3 linked regions of the Homo sapiens genome follow. The protein of the gene in region 2 purifies or fractionates together with the protein of the main gene of each other region. This does not show direct contact. Each region holds a gene or a part of one and is shown on either strand. Other genes may lie near its edges. The genes, in order: TSPAN5, MRC2 and SLC9A7.

Region 1 (3,652 bases), on a different chromosome or scaffold from region 2:
ACAGCTACTTCTAAACATTACATTCCATGATGCAAAAAGAAAATCACATGAAACTGTAGTATTTCCGTTTAAAGCACACAGCATCCCAAGACAACATGGTCCTTCCAGGGCTTGGGTCATGCATTTCGAGGTGTGTCCACAAAGCTCCATCAATGTGTCATGCAAACTAGTCAGGAATAATGCCAGGAAAGGGATTATTAGGGAGCCTGCACCCATTAGGACCTAATAAAACAGTGAAGTCGGCTGAGGACATGAATCAGGGCTTAATTTCCCACTTAAGGGGCAGCTTACTCCAGGACGAAATGTTGCTGCCACTGAACAAAACCACATAACCCTGCTCAGTCCTGAGTGCCTAAGGAAGGGGATGGCCTCCCTCATAAAGAGTGTCAACATGGCTGCTGCCTCCCTTCATCACAGGCAGACAACTATCCAACCCCAAGAAGGCTACCGTTCACTGGGCTTCTGCTTGCCCTCCGGTCCTGCCATATACATGAATGCCACAGACACCGCTGTCCAAGTCCAAGCTCAGCCTACCCGACTTTTCAGTGCAGGTATATAAAGACCTGCAAGTTTGTAGGACCCTAACACCTTAGCCTAATATAAAAACATGTATGTCTCATTAGTGTCATAATATCCCTGTGAGTTAGACAGTAGCTAGTATTATTTCCATTTTGCTATTGGGGAAATAGGTCAAGGTCCTGTGAGCCCAGGGTCCCTTATCAGATTTTGGCACTAGACCTGTGTCTTTTGGTCCCTTGCATTCTGAGTGAAACGGGACATCTGCTGCTTTGCTGGCACTGAAAGAGCCATTTCACAGGCATGCTCAGAGACGGGAGGGAGTGGCCTGGACTCCAATGCTCAGGGATAGGAGAGAGTGGCCCGGATTCCACTGCACAGATTCTTCACTTGTTAGAAGCCACTAGGACTTAGGAGTTTCTAAGCTTTTGCTTTTAACTGCATGTGCAATAATAATATTTGGATAGGCACATTTTAGGAACTTTGTGGCAAATTATTCTGTTGATAAGTAGATTATTATGAGCTGTGAAATATCAAGGATTACCAAAAAAGGGGGCAAGGGATAAGAAAGAATCCATATTTAATAACCAAAGAAAACTTTAAACCCGGAGCAAAACAATGTTCCTCAAATGCAAATAGGAAAGGACAGCCATGATTATAACGTTTTGCTCAAGCATTTTCTTCTTTGTTCCTCTAACTTAACAGAAGTTGAAACAAGTGAAAATAGGAAATTTCCATTTAGAATACAAATCCTGTAAGTCACAGAGCAAGTCGGAAAATAATAAACAAACAAACAAACACCCATGCAGAATAGTCAGGTAGTTTCCAGCTGGCAGATGCAGAAACCAGGAGGGATGAAATTCACTGGGGTCATCGTTCAGAGAACTTTCAACTTGAAAACAAACCACTTTAAACTTACATATTCCTGGGTGAAGTCTATGAGGTTTTGCAAATCAATGTCATCCCGATATGCTCTGATGTTGTTGTTTATAAAGAAATACAGCTGGTCTTTGATCCAGTCTTTGAAAACAAATGCTAGAACTCCGGCAGTGAGCTCCAGGAAGAAAATAATTCCCAGGAACACAGAAAACTAAGATAAAAGACACATACACAGAGAACAGTTATAAGGGCTATTTTGATCATATATAGCTAAATGGTTCCTCTCTAAACAGGTTTGTAATTACATTGGATTGTTACACATCTCCAAAGCAGATAATCTTCAGTTTCTGCTGATTCATTAATAGAATATTACACTCCAAGAAAGGACTTTTAAAAATCATTTTATAATCACATTTTAGGGTCTCTAGTGTTCCATTTGATAATTAACCAACAAAGCCCATAAGCAAACATGGATAATAAGGATTTCTCATTAGACCCACATTAAGGCCTAATTAATTTCTCATGATTAATGTACTGCCAGATGCTTGTAACAATGACCTGCCCCTATCTCTAGTAAGCTTCTGTAACTTGAAAGATAGATTATTCCAATATTTTAAGATCGCCTGTCACTTGTTACTGTGGCCTTGATTCTCTATGCAATATATTCCTTTTATGGATTCAGACACCATTTTAATTCTCTTTTGCACCTGCTATACAGGGTAAAATAACAGATGTGTTCATCTTAGATGAAGGGGTCAAAGAGGAAGTAGTGGGGTGGGCAGTGACCGCGAAATGAAAGTTATTTCCCATCATAAAAACAAAATGAAACCCCTGAGTTGAGGGCTTTCCTGGGAATGCTAGCTGTGCTTGCCTTCCTCTAGGAAGCATGGGCCCCAGCAACATTTTAAGTGACATCAAAATGCAGCCAAGGGGAGACTTCCGCTTAATGTAGACAACAGGGGTTTTAAAAGAGGGGCTCAAGACCATGAGGCAACGTGGTAACTGCCCGTAACTCTGGAGAAATTCCCCTTCCATCTAGAAGACTCAGAAGAGTCTCAGCTTAGTCATATCGACTTACTGCTCACGCCCACTGTTTTTTCCACCTCCTACCATCCTGTATTCTTAACCTTCTCAAACTTTGTTGTTAAAATAGATTATGAGAAATGAGCTGTGAAGGACCAGAGGGTACAGTGCGGGTAAATTTCTGGTGACAACAGCAGAGAGGGTGACATGGGCCACAACTGCTGGGCAGAGGTCCTGAAGGCCACATGCAGAAGAACAGTGAGCAGCTGAGGAGGCAGGGGGTGCTCAGGTGGTCTGCGGTTCTATCTTCAGCAAGCAGACAAGGAGCTGCCAGCCAAGAGAAAAATGTATTGGGGAGGGGTGCAAAGGAAACAGCAGTTACTCATTAAAAGAACAAAAGACAAACAATGTTTATTCATTCAGCAAACATCTACTGAATGACCCACAATGAGTCAGGCCCTGAGGTAGGTGGGCTTTGCAGAAACAAGGATGAGTAAGAACAAGGGGTATCCTTGCCTTCGAAGATGTCCCAGTCTTATGTGATTAGGGAGGCTAGGCAGGGAGTGGGTATCTGCAGACATTAGATGTCTGTAGATCTGGCAGTATTTGTCTAGGGTGCCAAGTACTGCTCTGTGAGGGTGGGCACGGGAGGAGGAGTGGAAGGTGGAAATAAGTGTTTGGCAAAGTTTTTGGACTCCCAGGTTAAGGCCCCAATTCTAGACCCTCCAGCTCAGCCCTTCAGGTTTCCCTAGAGTTCCTGATTATATATCCTTCAGGAATTCGCCAGAAATGGAATTTAAACAGTTCTTAATTATCATCAGTGATGCCAATAATTTCAATTTAAACTTTCCCCAATCTAGAAAAATGAACAGAAAAAATATCACACCACTTCTGCTCAATGCCTACCCTACAGTGTAAATAACGCCCTGCCCTGTATTAGGCCCCACCTTAAGCATGTAAATATGAATTATGAATTATCACAGTACAGAAATGACAAAATTATAGCTAGCATGCATGAGCATACACAGGAAACACCAAGTCAGGGAAAGATTTTAATTCAGTTTTTGTTCTCACCTCCATAAAAGTTAAGTGCATTTTCCAGTTCCCCTGGTAAATTTTCTCTTCATGTTACATATTATACATACCAAAAATTGAGTCCAAATTCAATTCATATAAAATATTTGGCAGATACCTACATGCCCCAAGCCCTGTTGAGCTAATTTCCTCTATTTCC
Region 2 (3,652 bases):
GGGTAATCAGAAGGTCACAGGTGTGAGTTGGGACTCAGAAACAGCCCCCTGGGAAGCTGGTGCTCCTGGCAGGGAAAAAAAGCCTGAGCAGAGTCCGGGTTGGGCAGTACTGGGAGCTATGGGAACGGTAAGGAGCTCAGCTTGACCTGCACAAGCACTGAGAAGGCCGGGAATTCTTTCTTTTTCTTTTCTTTTTTTTTTTTTTTGAGACACAGTCTTCCTCTTTTACCCAGGCTGGAGTGCAATGGCGTGATCTCAGCTCACTGCAACCTCCACCTCCAGGGTTCAAGTGATTCTCCTGCCTCAGCCTCCCGAGCTGCTGGGATTACAGGCATGTGCCACCATGCCCAGCTAATTTTTGTATTTTCAGGAGAGACAGGGTTTCACCATGTTGGCCAGACTAGTCTCGAACCCCTGACCTCAAGTGATCCACCTGCCTCAGCCTCCCAAAGTGCTGGGATTACAGGCATGCACCATCACACATGGCTGATTTTTGTATTTTTAGTAGAGACAGGGTTTCACTATTTTGTATTTTTGTATTTTTAGTAGAGACGGGGGTTTTACCTGGCCAGGCTGGTCTTGAACTCCTGACTTCAGGTGATCCGCCTGCCTCGGCCTCCCAAAGTGCTGGGATTACAGGCATGAGTCACCGAGCCTAGCAGAAATTCTAAATTCAGAAAGTTTACATCGATTCAAGCTTCCCCTTAGCAGCGCTAACCTGGCAGCAATGCCAGCTCTGGACTGAGGGTGGAAGGGAAGACCCTAAGGGAGGAAACTGTGGATGTAAATTACACCACAAAGGCCGGGGGAAGAGAGTTTTCAAAAGTGTCCATTGGTCCAGGTGCAGTGGTTTGTGCCTGTAATCCCAGCACTTTGGGAGGCCAAGGCAGAAGAATCGCATGAGCCCAGAAGTTCAAAGCCAGGCCTGGGCAACATAGTGAGACTCTGTCTTTAGTTAAAAAACAACGACAGGCCAGGTGCTGTGACTCACGCCTGTAATCGCAGCACTTGGGAGGCTGAGGCGGGCGGATCACGAGGTCAGGAGGTTGAGACCATCCTGGCTAACACGGTGAAACCCCGTCTCTACTAAAAATTCAAAAACAAAATTAGCCAGGCGTGGTGGTGAGTGCCTGTAATCCCAGCTACTCGGGAGGCTGAGGTGGGAGAATGGCGTGAACCTGGGAGGTGGAGCTTGCAGTGAGCCGAGATCCCGCCGCTGCACTCCAGCCTGGGCGACAGAGCGAGACTCCGTCTCAAAAAAAAAAAAAAAAAAAAAAAAATCAGAAGATTACCCAATGAACTACTACTAATCTTCATTGGGGAATCTTGGTTGGGAAGATTACCCACAGAATCTACCAGTGGTAGACTGTGGCCTGTGCTAGTGTGTAATCAGTGTAGTGTAAGGGAGTGGACTTCACATTTTTTTGCACTTACTTGTGTATGGTTTGAATGTTTTCCACTGAGCATGCATTTTTACTTTTTTTTTTTTTTGCGACAGGGTCTCACTCTGTTGCCCAGGTTGTGCAGTGGTGCAATCATAGCTCACTGCAGCCTCCAACTCCTGGGCTCAAGTAATCCTCCTGCCTCAGCCTCCTGAGTAGCTGAGACTACAGGCACGCACCACTGTGCCCAGCTAATTTAAAAAAAAAAAAATTGGCCGGGCGCGGTGGCTCACGCCTGTAATCCTAGCACTTTGGGAGGCCGAGGCAGGTGGATCACGAGGTCAGGAGATTGAGACCATCCTGGCTAACACAGTGAAACCCTGTCTCTACTAAAAACACAAAAAATTAGCCGGGCGTGGTGGCGGGCGCCTGTAGTCCCAGCTACTCGGGAGGCTGAGGCAGGAGAATTGCGTGAACCGGGGAGGCAGAGCTTGCAGTGAGTGGAGATCGTGCCACTGCACTCCAGCCTGGGCAACAGAGCGAGACTCCGTCTCAGAAAAAAAAAAAAAAATTCTAGACACAGGGTCTTGTTATGTTGCCCCAGCTGGTCTCAAACTCCTGGCCTCAAGCAGTCTCTCCTCCCGTGGCCTCCAAACGCACTGGAGTAACAGGCATGAGCCACCATGCCTGGCCCATTCTTACAATTGAGGCCAATGAACAGCATGCATGCTGCAAGGTGAGGCCTAAGAAAGGTCACTTAATTTAGTAATTAGGGAGCCTCATCAGTATGACCCTTGGGAGGCAGTCCCTCAGACAGTAGGCTAAAGGCAACTAGAGGCAAAAAGGGGAGAGGTATGCCCAACCATCCCAGTGTTCCCTAGTCTGTCTTGGTTTTATTCCAGAGTCCCAGGAAGCTCCTTATCCTTCCCTAAATGAAGGTTAAATAGAGAAGTGTAAGGATGAAGAGGAAGGTGATAAAGAGGATGGTGATAAATTGAGGGGCTTTAGGGGGTAGGACCATTGAGGGTGGGATTTTTTTTCTTTGGTATTTCTTTTACTTTCAGAAAAACTATGATTACTTTTTGGCACTTACAGTAGTTAGCAAAGTGTCACGAAGAAGTAATGCCTCTGATTGAGGCTATTTCTGAAAAAAAAAAAAAAAAAAAAAGAGAAAAATAGCAATGAAGTAACAGGTTCAGACCTGCTTCAATTTAAAAAAAAAACAATGGGGCTGGGCATGGTGGTGCACTTCTGTAATCCCAGCACTTTGGGAGGCCAAGGCGGGTGGATCGCCTGAGGTCAGGAGTTCAAGACCCGTCTGGCCAACATGGTAAAACCCCGTCTCCACTAAAACTACAAAAATTAGCTGGGCGTGGTGGCACGTGCCTGTAGTCCCAGCTACTTGGGAAGCTGAGGCAAGAGAATCGCCTGAACTCGGAAGGTGGAAGTTGTGGTGAGCCAAGATTGTGCCACTGCACTCCAGCCTGGGTGACAGAGGGAGACTCCGTCCTAAAAAAAAAAAAAAAAAAGTTGTATCAGAGGTGTTCAAACCAGAGCAACTCCATCTTTAAAAGGGGCTGGGTAAAACGAGGCTGGGAACTCCTGGGCTGCGTTCCCAAGAGGTTAGGCATTCTAAGCCACAGGATGACACCGGAGGTCAACACAAGACACAGGTCACAAAGACCTTGCTGAAAAAACAGCACGCAGTATAGAAGCCACCCAAATCCCACCAAAACTAAAAGGTGACAAAAGTGATCTCTGGGCTAGGCGTGGTGGCTCACGCCTGTAATCCCAGCACTTTGGGAGGCTGAGGCAGGCAGATCATGAGGTCAGGAGTTCAAGACCAGCCTGGTCAACATGGTAAAATCCCATCTCTACTAAAAGTACAAACATTAGCCACGTGTAGTGGCACATGCCTACAGTCCCAGCTACTTGGGAGGCTGAGGCAGGAGAATTGCTTGAACCTGGGAGGCAGAGGTTGCAGTGAGCCAAGACCACGCCATCGCACTTCAGCCTGGGCAACAGAGTGAGACTCCATCTCAAAAAAAAAAAATGACTTGTGGTCATTCTCACTGCCCATTTTTTTATACACTAATTATAACGCATTGGCATGCTAAAAGATACTCCTATCAGCGCCACGACAGTTTACAAATGTCATGGCAACGTCAAGAAATTACCTTATAGGGTCTAAAAAGGGAAGACTCCCTCAGTTCCGGGAATTGCCCACCCCTTTCCCAGAAAACTCATGAATAATCCACCCCTTGTTTAGC
Region 3 (3,652 bases), on a different chromosome or scaffold from region 2:
GTTTTACAACTTTAAAAAGCAATATTCGTCATCTGGTGATGATTGTAAATATGATAGTGATGATTACTGGAAGAGAGTTGAAGAATGTTTCCTCTAATTGAGGAATTTGTCTACAAATATAAACCCTCTCTTGTTAGAGTAGTATTCATGAGGACCTTTGCTAGTATGCTTCAGTCTTTCCATTAGCTCTGCTAATAATGAGGTTAGAAAAGTCAAGAAACAATGAGTTACATGAAGCAGGTTCTGATTTTTAGGAGAAAGATAGTCTGTAAATGACTTGTTTTGGCTTCCTGATGACAATTTAAGTTAAATCATGTTCCAAATAGCTGCCTCCAGATGCTGCAGATCATCCTGTATTATGATGAGTGTTGAAGGGCTAGAGTCGTCTTTGCCATGTAAAACTTCGTCAGAAAATAACTGTCTAACCAGGGAGTGAAATAAGACTAAAAAGCATCACAGAGTTCCATCTAGAGTGGAGAGAGAGCCCCCCAGAGCCCTGAACAGCTCCACTGCCACCAATCTCATTACCATCACACCTGCAAAGGGGCCACTGCTGCCACAGCTGGCCCCAGTCACCATTACTGTGACCGCAAACATGAGCAGTGAGGCTGAGACACTTGGCATGACACCATGGGCAGAGGCAGAGGGAGTGGCAGCCTGCAAACAGGACAAGAAGGTTATCCCAGTGAAAGTTTGGGAACAGTAAGATGGTTCAGTGTAAGAAATATATATGGTTTCGTCCACAGGAATGACACTGGGTGAGATGTATTTGTATGCCAGATTGTCATAAAGAAGAATAACCCCCAGGAAACACCCTGGCAGTACAGGGGATGGAGAAGCTGTGGAGTTCGATGTTGAAGGAGAAAACGGTACACAGGCAGCAAAGATTGCAGGCCCTGGTGGAGTTCCAGTGCCAGGCAGTACAGATGCAGTAGACTGAAGCCATTATAGATGTTATCTGCATCATGGGGGTCTTCCACACGGTCACCAGCACAATTACCAGAACAATGAGAGTGGGGAAAAGAAGGATTGGAGAGTTCCCTTAAACGTCAGGCCTTACAGCACACAGAAGATGCCTCCTCCCTTGCAGAGACCCTATGATTCTTGACCAGAGTGTTCTAACCCTCCTGTGCAGAGACAAGTGATGGAGGGTGGTGACAACCAGGGTGAAGGAGAAGAGGTAGGTCAGTGAGACAGATTACGTATTGGGGTTACAGACCACGAATCTCCAGGGCCCCTCCTCACCTAGAACAGTAATGAACACCCAAGGCCAGCAGCCATGTCATTGTAGGCACCCCCCAACTTCAGTTACCAGCACAGACACCCAGAAAACCCTGAACCACAAGATGGCAAAGAGACTGACAGCTAGGAAGTCCGTTGCCAAGGCTGAGCAGAGCAGGACAGAGTAAATGCCAGCCAACCATTTCTAGTGTCATCTGGTTTGTCATCCTACAGGAATAAATGAATATAAATTCCAGCAATAAGACCTGAACAAAAGATTGGTTCTGAAGACCTTAAGTGACTGCTTTTGGCCCATTTACCAGACAGCTAGCACTATCTGAGTTATGGAGCTTTCATTACTTTTCCCTACAGACATCTCTTTTTGGTAATGATAAATATGTTTTTTTAAATATGTTTTTTAAAAGGTCTGGGGCCAGGCATGGTGGCTCACGCCTGTAATCCCAGCACTTTGGGAGGCCGAGGTGGGTGGATCACCAGAGGTCAATAGTTCGAGACCAGCCTAGCCAACATGGTGAAACCCCGTCTCTACTAAAAATACAAAAATTAGCTGGGTGTGATAGCGCATGCCTGTAGTCCCAGCTACTCGGGAGGCTGAGGCAGGAGAATTGCTTGAACCTGGGAGGCGGAGGTTGCAGCAAGCCGAGATTGCACCACTGCACTCCAGCCTGGGTGACAAAGTGAGACTCTGTCTCAAAAAACAAATAAAATAAAATAAAAGGTCTGGTTTTTCTTATATGCCTTTAAAGGTTTTCAAATTGTTTCGTATCTGGTCAGATTGAGATTATTAAGAAACTCATTTTTAAGTTGTAAAAAAAATCAAGTTGTTTTATTACAAGTCAACAAACTGCAAGTATCTGTTAATATGGGTCTATAATAATTATAATAACACAACACAGATGCAGATTTTGGCTCAAAGAACTATATTTTTCTAGATTTTATATTTTATTTGCTATTCAACAATGTCTTGTGAGTTCTTATATATCTTGGTGATAAGAGACATTATAGAACATTACACATGGAAGACAGTAAACATCGTTCTTTTTCTCAGCAACTTTCTCCATTAATGGCAAAATGAGATGAGGAAGCAAATATATCATTCTGTCTTTTAATATTGCCAGCAAAGAACTGAATTTAGAGAGAAGTCTGAAATTTTCCTTCTAGAGAATTATAGAAAGTGTCTGATAGTGATTTATGGCTGGTTTTTTGTTTTTGTTTTTTAATCTTTCACTCACTTTTACTTGGGCATGTCTGACTCGTGTTCAGGTCCAGGGAGCCACACTCCTTCCTTATTCACAGAATTGAATGCTTATACATGATCTTGCTGTTTTTATTTTTCCTAATGGGAGAGCCCTACTAAGAAGGGTATGAGACTTACATACTTGTAGCTGATGATCTTAGCCATCTCATAGCTACAGCCCCAAGAAGCCAGCTCTCCAGCCCCTGAATCCTGACTCCTCAAATGTACACTGCAGTGTTTCACTTCCCAAGGGGTGTAATTACCTTCTCCATGATACCAGTGTTTCAAATGACCTAAGCAAAAGAATTTCTTTTTTCTCCCCTTTCCTCTGATGTGTGGCAAAGCAAGTTACATTTATAGCAACTGGAAATTCCAGTGGGCTGGTCCTTGCTGGCACATGGCAACAGGACTGGCTTGAGGGATGCTGCTGAGTGAAATGAAAGAGCTCAGCAGTTCTGCTTTGTGCTGTCCTGGCCAGAAAAATCTTTGCTGCTTGTCATCCCATCTTCCTCCACTAGAAGCCTGAGAAATGAGACATGCTCAGGTGTTAAAAGTGGTCACAGGGCTGGCTGGATGTGGTGGCTCACACCTGTAATCCCAGCACTTTGGGAAGCTGAAGCCAGCAGATCACTTGAGGTCAGGAGTTCGAGACCAGCCTGGCCAACATAGTGAAACCTTGTCTCTACTAAAAATACAAAAAAAAAAAAAAAAAAAAAATTAGCCGGGTGTAGTGGTGGGTGCCTGTAGTCCCAGCTACTTGGGAGGCTGAGGCAGGAGAATTGCTTGAACCTGGGAAGCGGAGGTTGCAGTGAGCCCAGATCACGCCACTGCACTCCAGCCTGGGTGAGAGAGCGAGACTCCACTCAAAAAACAAAAAAGTGCTCACAGTGTCATAATACCACTGAAGGTACTGTCCCACCTTGTCCTCCTGGTGGCCGAGCAACTTAAATCGGACCAGAATAGATGGATGCTTAACCCTTTCAATCCTGAAGGCCCATGCAGTTTCTCCTAAAATACATACCCCATGCCCAGTTTCTAAGATTACTGCTGCATTTCTTAGTTGTTGAAAGTCAACTATGCCATTATTTCCACACTTTCTCTATCCTTCCTCAGGCCTGATGAGTTTTTTTCCACTCTTTCAGGGCTCATCGTTGGGGTGATCCTGAGGTATGG

Evidence for each region.
Region 1: the proteins of MRC2 (region 2) and TSPAN5 purify together in Homo sapiens (co-immunoprecipitation; one large-scale study listed by IntAct). This does not show direct contact.
Region 3: the proteins of MRC2 (region 2) and SLC9A7 fractionate together in Homo sapiens (co-fractionation; one large-scale study listed by BioGRID). This does not show direct contact.

What each region holds. Positions count from the first base shown.
Region 1 is NC_000004.12:98,480,570-98,484,221, forward strand, and holds part of TSPAN5 (tetraspanin-5), read right to left. Parts: intron 1,607-3,652; coding exon 1,436-1,606; intron 1-1,435. UniProt on the Homo sapiens protein: Part of TspanC8 subgroup, composed of 6 members that interact with the transmembrane metalloprotease ADAM10.
Region 2 is NC_000017.11:62,634,090-62,637,741, reverse strand, and holds part of MRC2 (C-type mannose receptor 2 precursor), read right to left. Parts: intron 1-3,652. UniProt on the Homo sapiens protein: May play a role as endocytotic lectin receptor displaying calcium-dependent lectin activity. Internalizes glycosylated ligands from the extracellular space for release in an endosomal compartment via clathrin-mediated endocytosis.
Region 3 is NC_000023.11:46,682,505-46,686,156, reverse strand, and holds part of SLC9A7 (sodium/hydrogen exchanger 7), read left to right. Parts: intron 1-3,621; coding exon 3,622-3,652. UniProt on the Homo sapiens protein: Golgi Na(+), K(+)/(H+) antiporter. Mediates the electoneutral influx of Na(+) or K(+) in exchange for H(+). May contribute to the regulation of Golgi apparatus volume and pH.